3 linked regions of the Homo sapiens genome follow. The protein of the gene in region 2 interacts with the protein of the main gene of each other region in a pairwise test. Each region holds a gene or a part of one and is shown on either strand. Other genes may lie near its edges.

Region 1 (5,126 bases), on a different chromosome or scaffold from region 2:
CAGATCACCTGAGGTCGGGAGTTTGAGACCAGCTTGACTAACATGGAGAAACCCCGTCTCTACTAAAAAATAAATAAATAAATAAATAAATAAATAAATAAATAAATAAAATACAAAATTAGCCAGGTATGGTGGTGCATGCCTGCAATCCCAGCTACTTTGGAGGCTGAAGCAGGAGAATCACTTGAACCCAAGAGGCGGAGGCTGCAGTGAGCCGAGACTGCACCACTGCACTCCAGCCTGGGCAACAAGAGCGAGACTCCGTCTCAGAAAAAAAAAAAGGCTGGGGACGGTGGCTCACGCCCGTAATCCCAGCACTTTGGGAGGCCGAAGCAGGTGGATCAGGAGGTCAGGAGTTCGAGACAAGCCTGACCAACATGGTGAAACCCCGTCTCTACCAAAAATAAAAAATTAGCCAGGGATGGTGGCGCATGCCTGTAGTACCAGCTACTCAGGAGACTGAGGCAGGAGAATCGCTTGAACCCGGGAGGCAGACGTTGCAGTGAGCTGAGACTGCGCCACTGCACTCCAGCCTGGACAACAGAGTGAGGCTCTGTCTCAAAAACAAAAGCCTGGAGTGGTGTGGAGTGGTGGTGTGAGCCTGTAGTCCCAGCTACTTGGGAGGCTGAAATGGCAAGGCTGCTTGAGCCAGGGAAGACAAGGCTGCATTGAGCCACTCCAGCCTGGGCAATAGAGTGAGATCTTGTCACAAAAAAAAAAAAAAAAAAAAAAAAAAAGCTGGGCATGGTGGCTCAGGCCTGTAATCCCAGCACTTTGGGAGGCTGAGGGGAGCAGATCACCAGAGGTCGGGAGTTCGAGACCAGCCTGACCAACATGGAGAAATCCTGTTATCTACTAAAAATACAAAATTAAACAGGTGTGGTGGCGCATGCCTGTAATCCCAGCTACTAGGGAGGCTGAGGCAGGAGAATTGCTTGAACCTGGGAGTCGGAGGTTGCGGTGAGCCGAGATCGCACCATTGCACTCCAGCCTGGGCAACAAGAGCTAAACTCTGTCTCAAAAAAAAAAAAAAAAGTCCCCAAAGTCTTGTGCAAGAATGTTCAGTGCAGCTTTATTTATAATAGCCCCAAATTGGAAATAACCCAAATGTCCAATATCTGGCAAATGGATAAACAAATTGTGGTATATTAATACAATAAAAACAATACTCAGCAATAAAAAGCAACACTCCAAGAAGATGAATGAATCTAAAAGAAGTTATGCTAAGTGAAAGAAGCTAGATACAGAAGGGTACACACAGCATAATTCCATTTTACATGAATAAGCAAAACTTACCTACAGTGATTGGGGATATGGCAGGGATTAACTGGGAAACAGCACAAGGGAACTTGCTGAAAGTTTGGAAATGTTCTCAAGGAATGTGGGTTACATTACAGAGGCATTTGTCAACTCAATAAACTACATTTAACTGTGAATTTTGCCGGGCACGGTGGCTCACGCCTGTAATCCCAGCACTGTGGGAGGCCGAGGCGGGCGGATCACCTGAGGTCAGGAGTTCAAGACCAGCCTGGCCAACATAATGAAACCCTGTCTCTACTAGGAAAACAAAAATTAGCCAAGCGCAGTGGTGGGTGCCTGTAATACCAGCTACTTGGGAGGCTGAGGCAGGAATCACTTGAACCCAGGAGGCGAAGGTTGCAGTGAGCTGAGATTGCACCACTGCACTTCGGCCTGAGCAATAAGAGCAAAACTCCTCAAAAAAAAAAAAAAAAAAAAAGGCCGGGCACAGTGGCTCACGCCTGTAATCTCAGCACTTTGGGAGGCCAAGGCGGATGGATCACAAGGTCAGGAGTTCAAGACCAGCCTGAACAACATGGGGAAACCCCATCTCTACTAAAAATACAAAAATTAGCCCGGAGCTCACCTGTAATCCCAGCTACTCAGGAGGCTGAGCAGGAGAATCGCTTGAACCCAGGAGGCGGAGGTTGTGGTGAGCCGAGATCACGCCACTGCACTCCAGCCTGGGCGTCAGAGCGAGACTCGGTCTCAAAAAAAAAAAATTGTAGTACATAAATCACAACTCAATAAAAGAAAAAAAAAGAGACAAACAAAAAATGATCTCTAGAATAAATACCTGAAGTCTCCCAAAGTTAGCGTGGCCCAGAATTTTAAAAATAGTAATAATAATAATAAATACCTGAAGTCAATATACTTTACTTCAGGACTGAAGGAAAACTTTTATTATTCCAAGACAAAACCAAAACACATGCACAACTTTTAAAAGTAAAACAGTGGAAACAGAACAGATTAAAACATCACTCAGATCATAAACCAACCATGGGATTTTAAGCTCTCAAGTAAATCACCAAAGTTCTCTAAGCCTCAGTTTTCTCATCTGTAAAATGGGAATAAGAAAATCTACCTCACCAGGAATATGTAAAAATTAACCTTATGCAAAGTATCTAGTAAAGTACATGACACTTGGAGCCTTAGTAAACGGTATTGGTAGGAATCAACAATAAGAAAACATATAAAAAAGATCCACTTTACCTATCTTGCAAAACAGGAAATTACTTAAATGAGCCCTTATTGTGGACTCTTACTTTTTGTTTTATTTATTTATTTATTTTGAGACAGAGTTTCGCTTTTGTTGCCCAAGCTGGAGTGCAATCGCACGATCTCAGCTCACTGCAACCTCCGCCTCCTGGGTTCAAATGATTCTTCTCTCAGCTTCCCAAGTAGCTGGGGTTACAGGCACGTGCCACCACGCCCCACTAATTTTTTATATTTTTAATAGAAACAGGGTTTCATCATGTTAGCCAGGCTGGTCTCAAAACTCCTGACCTCAGGTGATCCACCCGCCTCAGTCTCCGAAAGTGCTGGGATTACAGGTATGAGCCACCGTACCCGGCCTGGACTCTTATTTAAATATCTGCCTTGTCTGAAAACTCTCCGCTTTATTATTATTATTCTTTATTTTACTTTTCTTTTTTTTTTTTTTTTTTGAGACAGAGTCTCACTCTGTTGCCCAAGCTGGAGTGCAGTGGCGTGATCTCGGCTCACGGCAACCTCTGCCACCTGGGTTCAAGGGATTCTCCTGCCTCTGCCTCCCCAGCAGCTGAGATTACAGGTGCCTGCCACTGCGCCCGACTAATTTTGTAGTTTTAGTAGAGATGAGGTTTCACCACCTTGGCCAGACTGGTTTTGAACTCCTGACCTCAAGATCCACTCACCTCGGCCTCCCAAAGTGCTGGGATTATAGGCGTGAGCCACCCACACCCAACTTTTTTTTTTTTTTTTTTAGATAAGAGTCTTGCTGTCACCCAGGCTGGACTTTCCACCTCCAGAGTTCAAGCAATTCTCATGCCTCAGCCTCCTGAGTAGCTGGGATTACAGGCGCATGCCACCACGACCGAATAATTTTTGTATTTTTATTAGAGACGGGATCTTGCCATGTTGCCCAGGCTGGTCTAGAACTCCTGACCTCAAGTGATCCGCCTACCTCGGCCGCCCAAAGTGCTTACAGGCGTGAGCCTCTGCACCAGGCCTCTTTCTCTTTTTTTTTCTTTTTTTGAGACAGAGTCTCACTGTCACCCAGGCTAGAGTGCAGTGGCACAATCTTGGCTCACTGCAACCTATGCCTCCCAGGTTCAAGCAATTCTCCTGCCTCAGTCTCCCAAGTAGCTGGGATTATAGGCCTACACCACCGCACCTAATTTGTACTTTTAGTAGAGATGGGGTTTTACCACACTGGCCATGGTTGGTCAGGCTGGTCTCGAACTCCTGACCTCCAATGATCTGCCCGCCTCAGCCTCCCAAAATGCTGGGATTACAAGCGTGAGCCACCGCACTTGGCCTCTGTTAAGAGACAGTGCTCACTCTGGTTGCCCAGGCTGGAGTGTAGGGGTGCAATCACAGCTCACTGCAGCTTCGAACTCCTGGGACTCAAGCTGGGACTACAGGTGTGAGCCACCACACCTGGCTAATTCTTAACTCTCCACTTTCTGATAATTGACTCCATTCCATCCAGATGGCTGGCTGAGAGAAAGGGTTAGGACAAACCAGGGAAGGTGCCTCGTTTTACAGTGGTCCTGCTCCCTAGCCACACAAACTCTCTTAAAAAAGTTCAAGAAAATCAAAGTTTTGGACAACCAAATTGTTGTAACCGAGCAACTTATAGAGAAACCACACTCTGAGACGAATTCAGGAGTCCTTTATTAGCCGGCGACCCAGAGACGGCTAGTGCTCAAAATTCTCTTGGCCCTAAAGAAGGGGCTAGATTTTCTTTTATACTTTTGTTCAGAAAGGGGAGGGGGAGAGTCTAGTTAAAACAAAGTAGGCAAAAAGTTAAAAGGACAAATGGTTACAGGAAAGTAAACAGTTCCAGGTGCAGGGGCTTTAAATCTATCACAAGGTGACAGACGCGGGGCTTTGGGTGTTATCAACCGGACACAAACGCGGGGGCTCTGGGTACTATTAACCGGGCGAATTCCTGGGAACTGCGGATATAGCTTGCCACAGTATCTTATCAGTTAATTGCATTCTTGGATGTGCTGGGAGTCAGCTTGCACAAGTTAAGTCCTTGAGGAAGCGGGTGGGTAAGGGGCTGCAAGTGAAGGAGCCAAGATGGAGTCTTGTCTGGCTCTTAGCTAAGGGAGAGTCAATTCAGGTTAAAACAAGGTAGGGTATCACAAAATTATATTCAAAGGTCTGAGTGAAAATCACTACTTTAAAAAAAAAAAAGAAAGAAAAGAAAAAGGCTTACATTGCCTTGTGAAATGCAAAAGACTATTTATAAAGATTACCAGTACTTAAGCCAGGTTTCCCAGAAATAGGGTTTACCTAAAGCAACATTTTTATTCACATCTGCTAGAAAGCTTTCTAATTACCTTTCAAAAGGCCATTTATTTCCAAACGTTAAGACAAACACACCAATAACTACTTTCCACAGAGAGCGTGCTCAAACAGTAGACAAAGCATGCTGAGTACTCTCCTTTTATCACACCTACACTGTCTGGTTGGATTACAGCCAACAGGGCTCAAGTAGGATTTATCTTTCCTGTGGATCACGTAGTACATTTGCCTAATGCAATGCCCTAGATTTTACAAATTACGTTCTCTGATGTACTTGCAAGTCGGCAGATTTGAACATTTTCAAGGAAGGC
Region 2 (5,126 bases):
CTCTGGGTTTTGAAATTGCCTTTTGCAAAATTTTAACCCCCTTCTTTGAAGTAAGAAGTAAAAGGGCTTGTGTTTTACCACCTCTGGGCATGGAGGAGTTAACTCTTTGACAGAGACCTCAGGAAGGGTGGAAATCAGCAGAGAGAGAGTTAGGGGCCTGCTGCTGGGAAACTTTCTTCCTTCTCATTCTTCTCTTCAACATTCTGCCTCTATGGCAGGAGTCCCATACTTGAGTATTAGTAGTGATGATAATATTATGAATACTGAACTAGTATTATTGATTAGTATTACTAATACTAATAATATTACTAATTACTAGGCACATCCAGGAAGAACGCAAGCCACAGACACATCATTACTACTATGAGTAGTAATTAGTAGTTACTAATAGGCATGACACCTGTTTTGAATGAAGTAGAAGAGAAGTGAAGGTCTCTAGAAAAATAAGTTTTCACTTAAAGACATCTGTGAAGATTTCTTACCGAAAACCATCAGCGGGAGCTCAAGCCAGATGTTAGTGAGCCGGTAGACCAGGAATGGCGTGATGATGCCACCAATGTCACACATTGAGGAACAGATGTGGACGCCAAGATTCCTAGAATGCAGGAAACTGATTTAACTTGTTAACTTATCACAGTGCAGTAGTTATCTCCCATCCACCCCTGAATAAACACTTCCTCAAATAATTAAAATGTTCAAGAGCTATAGTGTACACTGCTCAGGTGACGGGTGCACCAAAATCTCAGAAATCACCACTGAAGAACTTATTCATACAACCATATACCACCTGTTTCCCAGAAACCTATTGAAATAAAAAAAAAACACCAAAAATAAAATGTTCAAGAGTTTAAAAAAACATTCACGTTATTTTCAATGCACAATATTTTATATATATATATATATACATAATTCCATTCATATTCTGTCATTCTTGTTTTGTATAAACCTTAAATTTTTTTTTAATGATGGGAGGAGCAATTGTTTCTTTTTACTTCCATCACCTGGCTTCCCTAAGCTGTTTCTATGGACCTGTTTGTGCTGTTCCACAACAATCTCCCCTGTAGCCATTGGGTAATCCCTGTCTTGCAATTCAATTTTCTGTTCTCACCATGGCCTCTGTATTTTACCCCAGCCTGTAAGTGTGAGAGGTGAACTGCTGGGCCTGGCTGGACCTTTACGTGTTCTCACCTTCCCTTACACTGTGTTTTGAAGGTAAGATATCCTTTGTCTGCACTTGTGGTGGTTCCAGCCAATGAACAAATGTCTCACCCACCCTCGTCATTCTAAGGAAAATGCACTCACCTAATGAATGTGGGGTACAGCTCAGCATTGACCAGGCAGACTATCTCATAGGCCATTGTGATCCCCATTCTTCCCAAGCATGAGATAATAATTTTTAGCCATTGTAGATCTAAGAGGGAAAAGAACAGTACTTATCCGTACACAGATGATTCCTCATCTTCAGACAGTGCTCCAGAGTGGGACTGTAAGGACAAATTCCCCATCCCAGAATGGGACAAGAAAGAAAAATGACTTCTTCTATAGGCTCATGTTAATGTCAGCAGATTCTCACGTTTGTTCATCTTAACCTCAGACACAATGCTAATTCTCTCTTTTTTAAAAAAGATATTTTTTTTAGAGCAGTTTTAAGTTCACAGCAAAATGGAGAGGAAGGTACAGAGATTTCCCACATAACCTCTGCCCCCACACATGCATTCCACCCCCCACTGCCCATCATCGACATTCTCCACAGAGTGGTATGTTTGTTACTTGATGAACCTTCAGTGGCAACGATAATCACCCCAAATCTATAGCTGGCATTAGGGTTCACTCTTGGTGGTACACCTCCTGTGGGTTTGGACAAATGCATAATGACCTGTATCCACTATTTTAGTATCATATGGAATAATTTCACTGCCCTAAAAATCCTCTGTGTTCTCTTAACTTTAGACCTCAGTTGTTAATGACAACGGAGTTATACCAGTTTCCAAAGCTGGGCCAACTTTAGTCTATAGAAGTCAAAGAAAGAGCAAAATATGGGCACATTTAAACAACTGCTAATAACAAAAGGATTCAAACGAAGCTCCATATTGCTAAAAGGATTCTCTTATCCAGGTATTTGTTCCCCTTCGTTGAGGAAGCATTTTAAAAGGGAAAAAGGGAACTGAATAGTTATTTATGGATGGCATTTACTTACATTTTTCTCATTTATTCTGCAGGTTGATGCAGGGAGGTCAAGAGAGTCCCCAGTTAACACCCAGGAAGGGCTGGAGTAAGACCTTGACCTGGGCCTGCTTTACCCAAGGCCCATGCTCTCTGCTCCAGGTCATCTTGATGGCCTGTAGCATGGGGCTGTAAAGTCTCTCTTGTTACATCACATCAAGGAAAAATTGGGTACAATTTTTCCTAAAGGGAGGCTGGCCATATGAATTTGCTCAGAAGGGTCCCAGATACTGCCCTCCAATTTGTCTTTCCAAATTGATTTGGATGACAAATTACATGGTTTTCCTATCAATGGGCCGTGACACTCCCTTTCTCCAGGGTCTTGGAGATAAGACTCCAACTTCACCTGAAACTTACCACCAGGTATAAAAACTGAGGCCAGACAGGCTGCCCCTGCAACCATATTTGATGCAGCCCAAGGGTAACGGCGTCCGATGCGGTCGATGGTGAGGATGATCATGAAGGCAGCTGGGAATTCAACCAGGGCAGAGTAGAAGAAATCCAGGTAGATATTGTCACCTGCAAGGCCCATGTGCATGATGAGGCCCTGGTAGAGCACAGAGCTCGTGAACCTGAGCAAAGAGGAGAGTTCAGGTCAAGTCAAGCACCAAACACAGGGCACCAAAAAAGAGAGGCTTCTGGAAAAATAATGTGGATTGTAGGTCACCTTTCCCTGTGACCATCTCCTTGCTAGTCCCCCATCCCACTGCTTTTATAATCTCTGATCTACTTCAGTGGCTGGCTGTGGCTGGGTAGTTTCCAAAAACCAGGAGAAGGGAAGAAATTGGAATAGTTAGAACTAATTAGAAATTACGATAATGTTTCCTGGACAAATTGAAAGCCAAGAAGAATGTCTTAATGGAATGATTTATTTTATTTATTTATTTTTTGAGACAGAGTCACTCTGTTGCCCAGGCTGGAATGCAGTGGTGCAATCTTGGCTCACTGCAAACTCTACCTTTCAGTTTCAAGTTATTCCCCTGCCTCAGCCTCCCTAGTAGTTGGGATTACAGACGTGTACCACCTGCTAATTTTTGTGCTTTTAGTAGACATGGGGTTTTGCCATGTTAACCAGGCTGGTCTTGAACTCCTGGCTTCATGTGATCTGCCTGCCTCAGCCTCCCGAAATGCTGGGATTCCAGGTGTGAGCCACTGTGCCTGGCCAATGGAATGATTTATTTAGTAAAACTATATCAAGTTATTAGTGGTTGTGAGTTATTTCTCTCTTTGGGGTATTCTAGTGCAATTGGGATCGAAAGAACTGACTACTTAATTCAAATTTTAGGAAACCAGAAGACCAAGTGAGTACGGCCTCCCTTCTTGGTGACTTCTCTCCTGGCCTGTTACGAACAACATTTGGACAATGTTTCTAGTTTATTAACTAAACATAGTCATTACATGTAATGGAAAATATGAGGATAATCAACAAAAGTCACGATTACTCAGAAAAGGAAAGAAGGATAATGAGGCCAAATTTCAAAGCTGCCTCTCCTGTGCACTATTGTAAAGGTTGCTAAAGTAATTCCTCATGAGCTTTGCTTTTGTCAGTGATTGTAAATCTCCATTTGCCTGGGTGGAGATCCAATGTGCCCTGAAAAGATGCATTCCCCACTAGAGAAAGCATGGCTTGAAGCTCTGAGAGCAGCCTGTAGGTAGCAAACACAATAAAGATCAAGTCACTGGGCTGTGAAGCCACTGGAATTATTCTTGTTCAGAAATTTATTTTTTCTCCAGGTAGAAAAGAAAAAAAGGAAAGAAAAGGCAATCCCCCCACAACCCTGTTTTTTGTTTGTTTGTTTTTTGCCAGTTCTGTACTACAATAGAGATCTACATGCATCATCAATTAAGTTATACCAATAGTTCTCTAGTTGGGCTATGCATTTGAATCACCTGGAGAATTAAAAAACTATTGGTTTCCAAGCCCTACCCTAGAACAATTAAATCAGTATTTCTGGGGGTTTTGGCTTTGGTATTTTGTAAGCTCCCAGGTGATTCCAATGTGAAGCCGAGGTTGCCATTGCCTTGATCTGTGCTTAGGGGCTACACCGATCTTAATATTTGCCCAAGAAAAACACGATCAGGAAAACCTACCAGACACAACCCACATTGCTGCCCACCGTCAGCGCTAATACCGGGATGAGGTCATGTTTTCTTCCCTTCCTTACTATGGATGACTGTGATTAAAACAATTTGGAGGCATTTCAAAGTGAAAAATATTCCTTACCAGTTGTACATCAATATCATAGTATGTTTCCTTATCTGAGGAGTTCTGACCAAGTCAAGAAATGAAGGGTTCAATTTCTTGCCAGTTTCCTCTTCAAGTCTCAGGCGCTAAGAAAAGGAATAGAAAGGACGGCTTTGTATATTTAATGCTAGTGTCCCTGGGTCACATAGGGAATAACAATAATTTCTTACCGTCCTGAGCGCCCATCTCATGCCCAGCACTAGAGCAAGCACTTTCCATACTGTGTCCCATTTCATTTTTTTTTTTTTTTTTTTTTTGAGACTGAATCTTGCTCTGTCACCCAGGCTTGAGTGCAGTGGTGCAATCTCGGCTCACTGCAACCTCCACCTCCTGGGTTCAAGCAATCCTCTGCCTCAGCCTCCTGAGTAGCTGGGATTACAGGCATGCACCACAATGCCCAGCTTTTTTTTTTTTTTTTTTTTCCCCGAGACAGGGTCTTGCTCTATTGCCCAGGCTGGAGTGCAGTGGCACGATCTTGGCTCACTGAAACATCTGCCTCCCGGGCTCAAGGAATTCTTCTGCCTCAGCCTCCTGAGTAGCTGGGATTACAGGCATCCGCCACCATGCCCAGCTAATTTTTGTATTTTTAACAGAGATGGGGTTTCACCATGTTGGCCAGGCTGGTCTCAAACTCCTGACCTAGTGATCTGCCCGCCTC
Region 3 (5,126 bases), on a different chromosome or scaffold from region 2:
CTCTGTCTCAAAAAAAAAAAAAAAGGATAAAATAGGAAAGAGATACACTGTTTTGAAAATGTGCCTAGATCCAGTCCTTAACTCAGAAGAGGAGAAGGAAACAATTCTATTTCCCCTTTCTCACCCAGCCTTCAAGTTCACAGTAGAATTCAGGTGCACTACTCCTTATGTGTCTGCCTGCTAACCTGGCACTCCAATCACCATGTAAAACATGATTCCTATGAGAAAAATGCATGCTGTGCTGACAGCCCTTCATTCCTTCTTTTCCTCCCATGATAAAGTTTTCACATCCTGAATAAAAACATATAGCAGAGCAGGCCGGGTGCGGTGGCTTACACCTGTAATCCCAGGACTTTGGGAGGTGGAGGCAGGTGGATCACTTGAGGTCAGGAGTTTTGAGACCAGCCTAGACAACATGGTGAAACCCTGACCCTACTAAAAATACAAAAATTAGCTGGGTGTGGTGGCGGGCGCCTATAATCCCAGCTACTTGGGAGGCTGAGGCAGGAGGGAAAAAAAAAAAAAACATATAGCAGAGCAAACATAGAACACAGCTTACAAAAACACGGGGGAACCACTCTCAAGAAAGCCTATAATCAGCTGTTCAGATGACACTCAGACAGTAAGCTCAGTAACTTACCCCCACATTTTCTTTTTGTATTTGTCTGCCAACTTCAGAAGAACTTCCAGATAAGAATTTCTGCCTGCAGCTCCTGATTTAAATAGACAAAGTTTTTTAAAGGTAAAGATAAAGGAGTCCATAAAATTAATCCATTTAGAAAGTATTCTCAGAGCATCTAGCATAGAACAGCTAAGGGAAATCATTTCCGTCTGTCTTACCAGTATCAAGGATATGGGGCAGCACAGCCACAACACAGAGCTGGTGCTCCTCACACGTCCTCTTGGCAATGTCCTCGTTGATAATCTGTGGGACCCAAAAGACAAGGGACAATCAGGAGGCTGCATGATACAACACCTAAAGGTAAGCTGGCAAACAAGACCTTCGCACCGTCACTTTCATTGAAAACATTTCTCCCACGACTACTTCCTCGTATGGAAACACCTGGAGGCATGTTCTCTAAGAGGAGATTTTTCTGCTACTGATTCTTAAGCCTGTGGAAGCTGTGGTGGTGGAGGTGGGGTGATTAGCACACATACAAACATCTCTGAAATCGCAATGCCTGGACACAGCCTGGCTCTGCCACTTACTTGTTTAAATAGATTATACTTACATGTATTATATGTCTTATATGTTTATACACACTTGAGGCTCTGTGCCTCAATTTCCCCATATATAAAATGGAGATTAAAAACAGTATCTACCTCTCAGTGTTCATGTGAGAATTAAATGAAAACAAAACAAAACAAAACAAAACTATACAAAGACACCAGAACGGTGCCTGTTACATGATTAGTACTTGATAAATGTTCTATTACTTTGAGAATGATAAGCAAGAGTGATTGAATACACTCTATCTTTAAGAAGCTCGTATTTCTGTTCAGTGTAATTATTCTAATGCTAAAAGTTATGAAAAGCAATTTATCAGACTTTTTTTCCATTTCAAAGTATAGAAACCACTTTAAAGAGAGTATCTTTAAGGGCATAAAATGAACAGTGTGTCACACTGCTTTAACATTCCTCACCATCAGCTAAAAAAGCTTTCTGGACTACAAGCAGTTGAAGTGGTTTACCTCAAGCAGCTCAGGAGGTGGGGCGTTATCAGAAAACAAATCAAGGGCCCGGGACACGATGTCGGATCTTGTCCGCCCACCGTCATAATCCACAGGAGACTCGCCTTTCTGAAATATCTTGATTGTAGGAAATCCTCTAATCTATTAAAAAAAGGTCAGAGGATAAAATCCAATTAACACTTAATGCAAAATAACACAATCTTTACAGTTTCTAAAACCACCTTATAGGTAATTTTTTTTTTTTTTTTTTGAAGCAGTCTCACTCTGTTGCCCAGGCTGGAGAGCACAGGTGCAATCTCAGCTCACTGCAACCTCTGCCTCCTGGGTTCAAGCAATTCTCCTACTTCAGCCTCCTGAGTAGCTGGGACTGCAGGCACACACCACCACACCCGGCTAATATTTGTATTTTTAATAGAGACGGGGTTTCACCATGTTGGCCAGGCTGGTTTTGAAATCCTGGCCTCAAGTGATCCTTGGCCTCCCAAAGTGTTGGGATTACAGGTGTGAGCCACCACTCTGGCCTTATAGGTAATTTAATGTAACAAAACTGTTCTCCAGACTGCACAGATTTCAAAGGAATGACTCACAGAGGTCAATTATCAATCAGGGAGTTTTAACAGTCTGTGAAGTTTAGCCAATCATATTCAAGCCCTGGTATATAATTAACACAAAGTACCTGCCCTAGAACAAATGGACCAACTCACAACAGCCATATGAGCAACTTGAATAAGTCTGGGCAAGCTGAAACCTCACATTAAGTATATACCAGAAGCAGTGTGACATTAGGGGGAAAAGTTGACAGTCCTGAGTTTCAGACTTGTTAGTTATGACAATAAAGTGACTTTATCTCTTCACTTACAAAATGGTTTAAACATCTCCTTTACTACCTCATAGGGAGGCCTGGAGTATTGGAAGAAGTAACGAAACACCATGTATTTCACAATGAAATGAGCCTTATAAGTATACTCACCCCGTATCGGGAGGCCAGAACCTGATTGACTGTAGCATCCACAGCTGCCAGTTTCACTTTTCCTTTCGTCTGCTCTTTTACTTCTGAAGCTGCGGCAGCCCACTCTGGCTCTAGGCTATAGAAAAATATTCGTTTTGTTTTGTTTCTTTGAGACACAGTCTCTCTCTGTTGCCCAGGCTGGAGTGCAGTGGTGCAATCATGGCTCCCTGCAGCCTCAATCTCCTGGGCTCAGGTGATCTCATTTCAGCCTCCAACATAGCTGGGACTACAGGTGTGTGCCACCACCCACTGTTAATTTCTACATTTTTAGTAGAGATAGGGTTTCCCCATGTTGCCCAGGCTGGTCTCAAACTCCTGGCCTCAAGTGATCCACCTCACCAGGCCAAATACTTGCATTTTAACTTGCAGCCCAAACACCTTTCTTTTCTTTTCTTTTTTTTTTTAAGACAGAGTCTCCTTCTATTATCCAGGATGGAGCGCAGTGGTGTGAGCTTGGCTCACTGTAGCCTCTGCCTCCCACAATCAAGAGATTCTTGCACCTCAACCTCCCAAGTAGCTGGGACTACAGGCACACGCCACCACACCCAGCCAATTTTTTTGTATTTTTAGTAGACATGGGGTTTTGCTATGTTGCCCAGGCTGGTCTCAAAGTCCTGACCTCAAGTGATCCGCCTGCCTCGGCCTCCCAAAGAGCTAGGATTACAGGTGTGAGCCACCATGCCTAGCCTATACTTTTTAACTGATCTGTGCATTTCTGCCCAATCCCCAATTATGTCACACCTAGAAAACATTTTGTGTGTGGCTTTACTAAAGATACAATGCTACCCTTCACATGAGCTTCCCATTCCACCACTGCCCCTAAATCCAGACATGAGCCAGTCCCTTGTTAATCTTTGGCAATAGGAGAGTGGAAGCTCTTGGCGCTAATGTCAATGTTTAATATTCACTTAGAGTCAGAGTTTTGCTGGAAGAGATCTTAGTGGTGATCTATTATCTACTTCAGCTCTTTCAAAATAAGCTAATGAATGTACTGAAAACACTGTGAATGAACAGACTACTTAGTAGAAGGCACTTACTTTTTGCAGTGTCCACACCAAGGAGCATAGAACTCAACCATCCAAACATCTTCACTGTCCAGAACATTCTTATCAAAGCTGTCGTCTGTCAGCTCAATCACATCCTTCTTACTTGAACTATCACTTCTGCCCTGTCATTTATGACATTAAACATCAAACAATTGGGCCAAGAAGAACACTTTTCCTGTTTTAAATAATAACACTACTGCTACATCTTAACAAAGTTTTAGGGTTTTTCTTTAGTGAATAAAATAGTGAAAACGGTTGTATTCAAATTGGGTACATTCCTCAGCACTGTAATTTTTGCTTGGCAAATAGTCTTTTACTTTCAAGTAATTATCAATACATTCAGTACAACACATAACCTGTACCTGAATGCTGTCACCAGCTATTTTTAGAGAGAAACCTCAACATGGCTCAAAAAACCACCTGAACAACACTGTTCTAATTCAGACTCAAGTACAGCTGCTGCTTCATCCTAGGATGTTATGTTACATCTTTCATAGACAAAGTCCCTACCAGTCAACAGAGCTAAAAATAACACTTAATCCTTTTCTTTTTTCGAAGAATGTTCTTCAGTACTAAATCTAAGAAGCAGTCAGCATTGCTTTCTGTTGCCAGGCAGGGTGCAGGGGGCCAGGCAACTATGCTCATTAAATGTCTAAGTTTAAAATAAAAGGCAAGAGCATGAAATCTCTGGGTAAGCTCTGAGCCTGTATAAAGAAGCTAGTGTAACTGGTCTCCTAAAAGTAAAAGCCCATTTAATATTGATAGATCTTCAAGTTTGTCTTTTCACAAGAACATCAGTGTAAGCTTCACATTTCACATAAGGGCATCTAAAACACCAATCTGCTCCTCTCTCTCTCTCTTCTTCCCTATCCATTTGTGTAGAATTTTCCATGGATTTGGGGCTGACTGCCACAGATACAGGCCAAGAGGTAATCCAATCTCATCACGGTTTGCCAAAGCCTACCTAGAGGAAAACCCGTCCATCCCATCCCCACTCTGGACCTACAAGTGCCATGGGATGCCAGCACGTGGCTCCTGGGCCTGGTACTTGGACTGCAGGTGTGGCAAGAGGCCCTGGGACTGACTGGCTTTGGCAACAGCAATTCTGAGGAGGCCAAATGAGCAGGCTGGAGGGCTGGTTCCCTCTGGGATCGGTGGATCCAATCCTCTATTATTCTTTAATTGAGAGTTCACCACTTTAACATACTGTTAAAAAACAACTATCTTATACAAGGTATCCACTCTGGCTTCAAAATTATGACACATTAAAAACTGACATTTTATGGTCTTACTTGTTTTCCAGAACTGTATCCTCCGCTCCGTCCCCCGAGGCGATCCTTCACGAGCTGGCGCAGAGCACTCAGCGCAGCATCTACAAT

Evidence for each region. Proteins that work in one complex are often made in the same cells at the same time.
Region 1: the proteins of SLC22A2 (region 2) and LAPTM4B interact in a protein complementation assay, tested with the Homo sapiens proteins (one large-scale study listed by BioGRID).
Region 3: the proteins of SLC22A2 (region 2) and PDIA6 interact in a protein complementation assay, tested with the Homo sapiens proteins (one large-scale study listed by BioGRID).

What each region holds. Positions count from the first base shown.
Region 1 is NC_000008.11:97,777,891-97,783,016, reverse strand, and holds part of LAPTM4B (lysosomal-associated transmembrane protein 4B), read right to left. Parts: intron 1-5,126. UniProt on the Homo sapiens protein: Required for optimal lysosomal function. Blocks EGF-stimulated EGFR intraluminal sorting and degradation.
Region 2 is NC_000006.12:160,240,992-160,246,117, forward strand, and holds part of SLC22A2 (solute carrier family 22 member 2), read right to left. Parts: intron 4,555-5,126; coding exon 4,448-4,554; intron 2,796-4,447; coding exon 2,581-2,795; intron 1,412-2,580; coding exon 1,303-1,411; intron 596-1,302; coding exon 483-595; intron 1-482. UniProt on the Homo sapiens protein: Electrogenic voltage-dependent transporter that mediates the transport of a variety of organic cations such as endogenous bioactive amines, cationic drugs and xenobiotics. Functions as a Na(+)-independent, bidirectional uniporter.
Region 3 is NC_000002.12:10,788,057-10,793,182, forward strand, and holds part of PDIA6 (protein disulfide-isomerase A6 isoform d precursor), read right to left. Parts: coding exon 5,040-5,126; intron 3,870-5,039; coding exon 3,739-3,869; intron 2,778-3,738; coding exon 2,663-2,777; intron 1,834-2,662; coding exon 1,693-1,833; intron 926-1,692; coding exon 841-925; intron 714-840; coding exon 641-713; intron 1-640. UniProt on the Homo sapiens protein: May function as a chaperone that inhibits aggregation of misfolded proteins. Negatively regulates the unfolded protein response (UPR) through binding to UPR sensors such as ERN1, which in turn inactivates ERN1 signaling.